Linked DNA regions of Homo sapiens. The protein of the gene in region 1 purifies or fractionates together with the protein of each later gene. This does not show direct contact. Each region holds a gene or a part of one and is shown on either strand. Other genes may lie near its edges.

Region 1 (3,822 bases):
AGCAGAACATTGGATTTTGATGATACTGACATGAAAATTAAGCAGCAGCCTGGGTTGCAGGGGCTGGGACTTGATATTCCTTGAATTAGGATCACAATCAAGAGTAGAAGTTTGTCAGAATCTCCCTATCTCCCTCGTTAGTCAGCTGCTGCTACTACAGACTTAATGTTTATATGTCCCCAAAATTCATGTTAAATCCTAACCCCTAATGTGATGGTATTGGGAGGTGGGGCCTTTGGGAGGTGATTAGGTCATGAGAGCAGACCTCTCATGAACCGGCTTAGTGATCTTATAAAAGGGACCCCGGAGAGCTGCCTTCCTCTTCTACCACGTGAGGACACTGCAGGAAGACAGCTGTCTAAGAACTAGGAAGTGGGCCCTCACCAGACATTGAATCTGCGCTCCTTGAACTTGGACTTCCCAGCATCCAGAACTGTGAGAAATAAATTCATGTTATTTATAAACCAACCTGTCTATGGTATTTGTTGTAGCAGCCTGCAGCTCTCTATCACTCTTGTTTATAAGAGGCTGAAGTTTACTTTACCTCAGGCAGAGCTAAGCAAAAAAGATTACATCCCGATTACAAGATGAAAGTAAACAGAATTGACAAGAGAAATTTATTACTAAAAATAAAGCAGCTGAAGGTTTTCCCAGGGAAAACCATCACCACAGGACCTTCCATGATGAAATACGTTAGTATCTTCTTTACTTCTGAATTGCTGCCTTCTTTCATATACCCAAAATTTTAGTTTAAGTTAAATTAATCACGACAAAAACGATGTGGCATCTGATCCCTTCTTGTTCAATCTGAAGACTGAATTGGGCTACCCTGTGATGGAGACTTCAAGTGCTGCAGGTGAGTATCTACCAAGGGTTCATGTGTCAGGTACATGGGCTGGTAAGAAGACACAAAGGCTGCAGGCTGAAGCTCTGGGAGGTCCAAGGATCCTGGAGAAAACAATTCCTTAAGTTCCACTGCTGCTCGGGAGTCTGGGCAGACTGTTTTGGTCAGACATATACATGTCCTTTCAATCAATTCCTTAACACCCTTGCATTTGTCAGCTCAATTTTGCCTTTGTTAAGATAGGACAGATACTTTTACAATGAAAACTGGTTGAAACATTAAGTGACTTGCCTAGGGTTATATAGTATATTAGGCAAAGAGTGAGAATTTCAATTCCATTTTTTAACCCAGAGTTTTCCCTATATGACCCCAAAGCCTGAACCCTTGATCACTCATTTGTGGGAGGAACTCATGGAACACAGGCAGGGCCAAGGCCTTGACTTGACCCCACTGACTTCACTTGAAATGTTATTCCCTGCACAGTAAACTTTCCCCTGGTGTTCTGCTCCAGTCTTGCTTAGGTTACAGAATGAGATACCTTAGTTTCTGGGGTACCCTGCCTTACTATGATCGCAGGTGCTCCCCATGACATCTGTGAGTAATCTAGGAAGCTATGCAGGCCGCAGGTCCCCCTCTAACTCAGCACTCCGCAAGGCTGATTCAATGAAAGCTTTTATCACTCAATGCATAGATATTTAGGGTACTCGGCTATGTGTGAAGATGGGAAGGTAGCCTAAACACAGTCAATTTTCAAACCAGAAAGGTAAAGTTAAAGATACCTGGCAGAAGGGGATCATTCTGATCTTCATCAAAGATCTGTCTCTGAAAGGCTTCAAAGCTCATAGCTGCATCATTCTCCGGCAGCCCCTCAGGTAGCTGCCCATCTCCAGGTTTGCACACATCAAATTTCACCCACTGGTAACTGCAGAATCAAGGGAAATCACCCTTGAGAGTTATCTGCTAGACATAAATACCCATTCCTATCACTAAAGGGATCAGGTAATTTTTCTTTATATTCCGCCCATATATATCTAAAACACATATTTGCTAACAAAAACCTAAAAGAAATAAGCAGGCCTCTTTAGTGACAAATTAGTCTGCTAGATTTCCCACCCCTTTTGCTGTCATGGTACATACAGAAAATAGTAATAATCAGCGAACAGTGGAGTCCTGGCTCTTGCTTACCTGTCCAGAGGGCTAAGGGGGCCAATACTGAGCCCTACTGGTCGAGAAGCAGGCAGGCTTTGGACACAGAAGGTCAGTGAACAAAGTAGGAACTGCCAGTCCCTGGCCGGATGATCACTGAGCTTTTCTCAAGGGAATGAATTTGATCACACTTACTTGATGCATTTTCGAGCTCCTGGACAGCTCTGGATCAGGTTGTGGATGGCTGGATGAGAAAATCCAAAAAAGTCAGCTCCAGCTGGAAGCAGGTTAGGCATTAGTTTCCCCCTAAACAGGAGAGGGATAATTTTAGTTTGAGAGCTTAGCGGGAGATGAAGATGGATTTAAGAACAGAATAGTGGTATGAACAAACAGGATAAGCTTTCTTGACTTTGATAATGTGGAGGCTCTAGTTGGCACAATGTCAGGAGGATCCAGGATAGGTTTCTATAAAATAAAGTATCTCCACCCATTAAAAGCAAGAGAAAAGGTTTCACTGTACCAACAGTGATCTTTTAGCCTGTTTTCAAGCTTTTGGTCAACTTACATAGTAGTGCTTATAGTCCTGAGCAGTTCTGCATGACAAGCATCTGCAGAAGAGCTGACAATGGCATTCTGGGGGTCATCTTCAGGAACAATTTCAAACTGAGAAAGACAAACGAGCAATGAGATCAATCCTCAAGAAGGAAGGAGAGAGGGGCATACTACTCTGTAAATATTTCTTTACTCTGGAACGTGAAGCTGACGTATACCATCTTCAGAAGGGACACACATACTTTCCTATAGGGCTGCTAAAAATTGAAACAAATCCAAGTACCTAGAGAAAGTCCTTTGACTGTTTCAGTTCTACCCTTCTTGGTTGACAGCTTTCCAAAAGTGAGCGTTTAATTTGTTGTGTACCTTTCCAATCCACTTATTTATATCCTTAAGTACAAATACAAATGGTATTTTAAAAACAAATGAGATCACTCTCCATGTAATCTTTTAAGTCAATTTTACAAGATCTAGGAGAAACAGGCTGACTGCAAACTGCCATTTCATTGTATTTACTTTCATTTTGAACGTTAAAATATCTTGGTTATGTTAATAAAAAGAAACTGTTGCATCGAAATTACACTAATTCTGAGGAATTTTTGCCAAGAAAATATTTTTGTAACAAATGTAACAAGTTAACTAGCTGATTTAATTATTTGGCCAGTTTTCTATAAAGCGCAATGATTTTTTTGCCAGGAAAATATTTCTGTAACAAGTTCTATCTAGCCAATTAAATTATTTGACTAGTTTTAAAGTTCATTTAAACAGTTTCTAGTTCTTCAATGTTTACTTCAGTCAAATTATCCTGAACAGGATTAATTTATTTTCTGTATAATTTTTTAGAATGATATCGAGCACTACTGATTTCTAAAAAAAGTCAAAGCAATTTTTACTGAGTATAGTTTCCACTACTGTTAGTTTTCTTCTGTGGTTATTATTTCACTGGATTCAATTTACCGTGTCAAATTTTAGAGATCTGTCAATTTTGTCAGTAATAAATTCTCTTGTGAGTGGTTTCAATCAATGGTGGTTTTCTTATTTCAACCAATGGCATACCTTGCCAGGTTAAGATTCTAATGTTTTATATTTATTTCTCAGCTAATAAATGAAAAAACCATGAGCAATTAATTTCTTTTCTTTTTTCTTTTTCTTTTTTTTTTGAGATGGAATCTTGCTCTGTCGCCCAGGCTGGAGTGCAGTGGCGTGATCTTGGCTCACTGCAAGCTCCGCCTCCCGGGTTCACGCCATTCTCCTGCCTCAGCCTCCCCAGCAGCTGGGAC
Region 2 (3,822 bases), on another chromosome or scaffold:
TAATTACTCTGTGAGACTGCCTGTTTTCCAACAGCCTCATCAACAGAGTAGTAGTAAAATTTTGGACTTTTATCTATTTGGTTAAAAGTGGCCAAATTCTAGCTGTTTTATGTGATTTAACTTATTTATTCTTTGACTCTGAGATTATTACTTTTATTATTCTCATTGTACAGAAGAGGAAAGTAGGGCAGAGTTAAAAACCTTGCTCAAGTTCACACAGGCAGTAAGCTAGGCATGCTGGCTCCAGGGCTCTGGAGCCAGACTAATCAACCATTTCTCTTTACTGCCCCTACTAAATAGCATTCTTACTGGTTTTTCTTTTCAATTCTATGTTTTATCTTTTTTTTTTTCCTTAATATGCTATTCTTATTTGGGCCTTTGTTTCTTTCTTTTTAAACTTTTTTTGTTTGTTTTGTTTTAAAGAGGCACATCAAAACAGGAGTTGGAGCAATCCTTTACTGATATTTAGACATTTTTACTTCTTGGACTGGGTTAGCATTTAGGAAAGCCTCCAGAGAACCTGAAGGTAGGAAATAACACTGATTCTTTCCTGACTTTTGGAATACAGTGGTAATTATCAGGTTGTCGTGGATGAGATGGAAGTCTGATCGCTTGTGATGCTTCAGTGTACTACCAGAAATATGTCAGTGAGTTTCTTTGAAGGTATTCATACAGTTTTAGGGCATCCAGGCTATAGACAGTCAACATCCTAACCTCATGGTATTTGCTTTTACTGGTGTCTCATAGGTAAGTATTATTTTCCCAGTCTGGCAACCCTCTATGAGTTGGTACATTATATATATATATATATATATTTTTTTTTTTTTTTTTTTTTTTTTTTTGAGAGAGAGAGTTTTGCTCTTGTTGCCCAGGCTGGATTGCAGTGGCACGATCTTGGCTCACCGCAACCTCTGCCTCCCGGGTTCAAGTGATTCTCTACCTCAGCCTTCCAAATAGCTGGGATTACAGGGATGCGCCACCACACCCGGCTAATTTTTTTTTTTTCTTGTGTTTTTAGTAAAGACAGGGTTTCTCCATGTTGGTCAGGCTGGTCTTGAACTCCTGACCTTAGGTGATCCACCCGCCTCGGCCTCCCAAAGTGCTGGGATTACAGGCATGAGCCACCACACCCGGCCGGATACATAATATTTAAAGATTTATTATTATCTTTGTCTGAAACCAGAGCTATTGCCTGTATGTGTCAGCAGTTGCCATGTCCAGTTTCATAAAGGGCAAGATTGAACAATAAACAGTATTGTGGCCATGCAATTACTCTGAATTTTTTCTAACTGCTTGGATTGGATAGAGTAATTTTCCTGGGCTATACAGCTAATTTACTGCCTCAAGAGAAATAGGTGATGTTGACCAGCTCTGCAACCTAAAAGACTGCCTCTGGAACCTTTTTAGAACTGGAAATCATCAACAGCTTGTAACAGTGTTCTCATGGGCAAAGCTGGACTACACTGGCATGAACAGAATGTTTGAACTTTTCTAAGTTTTTGGTATTTTAAAAACCCCTTTAGATTGCCAAAGATTGAATGTGTGTTGATTTTGGGGTTTTTATTCTAACTGCCATAAGTTTGTAAATTTCATGGTTTAGTCACTTTTAGAGGAAGGATTCCTTTTTTTCAGCTGTATTTGTGCTCTTAGTAAATGAGAATAAATCTTTCTGTGCCATAATCCTTTTCACCAGTGTCTGACTGTTGCCTGTAGGATGTTCTTGATTGGAGATGGAGAAGAATCTTGAATCTATCACAGCTGTATTTATATTTAATTTTCAAATTAGCAATTATAGAACTGTGGGGAGGATTTAGTTATTTTTGACTGAGTAGTATTGATATAATCAATGTGGCAGTATTAGCAGATATACAAACCAAAGGAAGAAAACAATTGAGGATTCATTTGTGGGATGAAATCACAAAGGCTATGGAAATTGTGTGCTAATAACTGTATGTGGCTGGGCGCGGTGGCTCACGCCTGCAATCCCAGCACTTTGGGAGGCCGAGGTGGGCAGATCACGAAGTCAGGAGATTGAGATCATCCTGGCTAACATGGTGAAACCCCGTCTCTACTAAAAATACAAAAAATTAGTCAGGCGTGGTGGTGGGTGCCTGTAGTCCCAGCTACTCGGGAGGCTGAGGCAGGAGAATGGCGTGAACCCGGGAGGCGGAGCTTGGAGTGAGCTTGGAGTGAGCTTGGAGTGAGATCCCGCCACTGCACTCCAGCCTGGGCGACAGAGCGTGACTCTGTCTCAGGAAAAAAAACAAAAAAACTGTATGTATAACTACAGTTTTGCCACTAGTGAGTAAGTGCAGTCATTGTCAGAAATGCTTTATGGGGGCCGGGCGTGGTGGCTCACACCTGTAATCCCAGCACTTTGGGAGGCCGAGGCAGGCGGATCACCTTAAGTCGGGAGTTCAAGACCAGCCTGACCACATGGAGAAACCCCATCTCTACTAAAAATACAAAATTATCTGGGCATGATGGTGCATGCCTGTAATCCCAGCTACTCTGGAGGCTGAGACAGGAGAATTGCTTGAACCCAGGAGGCGGAGGTTACAGTGAGCCAAGATCATGCCATTGCACTCCAGCCTGGGCAACAAGAGTGAAACTCCATCTGGAAAAAAAAAAAATGCTTTATGGGTGGATGAACTCAAAACAAAATAACCTGTAATGGAAAGTCTAAAATACACTCGTTCCTCAGTATATGGTATACATAGGAGACTGGTTCCAGAATACCCACCTCCCACCCACTCTTCAGGGTATACTGAAATGCTGCTTATATGAAAAGTCTGCCCTTCATGTATGTGAGTGTCAGATCCCATGAATTCTGCATTTTTGATCCATGTTTAGTTAAAAAAATCCTTGTATAAGTGGACCCTTGTAGTTCAAACTAGTGTTGTTCAAGGGTCAACTGTAATGTCTGACTAGCTGGTTTTGGGCTCTGATGGGATACTAACTGGAAACTGGGATTTTAAACATTTAGTTCTCAAATTTTGGTGCAGAGAATGAGGAGTTTCATGTTCTGTCCTATATTACAGATATTTTTGTCTCCTTGCTTGTTCTTCCTCACATATTCTAAGCTCCTTAAAAGATAAGGACCACATTTTGCTATTAGCCAGAGGCCAGCACCTACTAAGTCTCTTGTACTTAGGAGGTGTCAGTAATTTTGAATTAAATTGGATAAAAAAGTGGCTGCTATACCCAAAAAGTTACTGTAAGATTACATTGCTTTAGTTACTCATGAGGTGGCATTGATTATTAAATCCATAGCAGCTTTTTTCAGAGTGCTTTCATTCTTTTTTTAGTTTCAGAAGTAATACACATTGATTATAACATAAAAATAAGTGGATAAAGTAAAAAGTAAAGGTGCCTTTCTCCATCCTACCCCTCAGTAAGAAATTTCCTTTTCTTTTAAGGTTACTTATGTGTTTAAAAGAGATTAGTTATAATTTATCCAGCATTTCTAGATTTTTTTTTTTTTTAGTGACAGGTTCTCGCAGTGTCTCCCAGGCTGGAGTGCAGTGGTGTGATATCACAGCTCACTGCAGCCTCTACCTCCCAGGCTCAAGTGATCTCCCACCTCACCCTCCCAAGTAGCTGTGACTGTAGGCGCACACCACCACACACAGCTAAATTTCTTTTTGTATTTTTTGTAGAGATGGTATTTCACCATGTTGGCCAGGCTGGTCTTGAACTCCTGGCTTCAAGCAGTCTACCTGCCTCAGCCTCCCAAAGAGCTGGGATTATAGGCGTGAGCCACAGTGTGGTGCCTGGCCTGTGTTGTGGGAGGTTTTTAGGTTTTCTGATCTGTGGTAGCCA

Evidence for each region.
Region 2: the proteins of TBRG1 (region 1) and UBR3 purify together in Homo sapiens (affinity purification with mass spectrometry; one large-scale study listed by BioGRID and IntAct). This does not show direct contact.

The regions. Positions count from the first base shown.
Region 1 is NC_000011.10:124,629,219-124,633,040, reverse strand, and holds part of TBRG1 (transforming growth factor beta regulator 1), read right to left. Parts: intron 2,654-3,822; coding exon 2,556-2,653; intron 2,297-2,555; coding exon 2,186-2,296; intron 1,767-2,185; coding exon 1,624-1,766; intron 949-1,623; coding exon 803-948; 3' UTR 1-802. UniProt on the Homo sapiens protein: Acts as a growth inhibitor. Can activate p53/TP53, causes G1 arrest and collaborates with CDKN2A to restrict proliferation, but does not require either protein to inhibit DNA synthesis. Redistributes CDKN2A into the nucleoplasm.
Region 2 is NC_000002.12:169,830,314-169,834,135, forward strand, and holds part of UBR3 (E3 ubiquitin-protein ligase UBR3), read left to right. Parts: intron 1-3,822. UniProt on the Homo sapiens protein: E3 ubiquitin-protein ligase which is a component of the N-end rule pathway. Does not bind to proteins bearing specific N-terminal residues that are destabilizing according to the N-end rule, leading to their ubiquitination and subsequent degradation.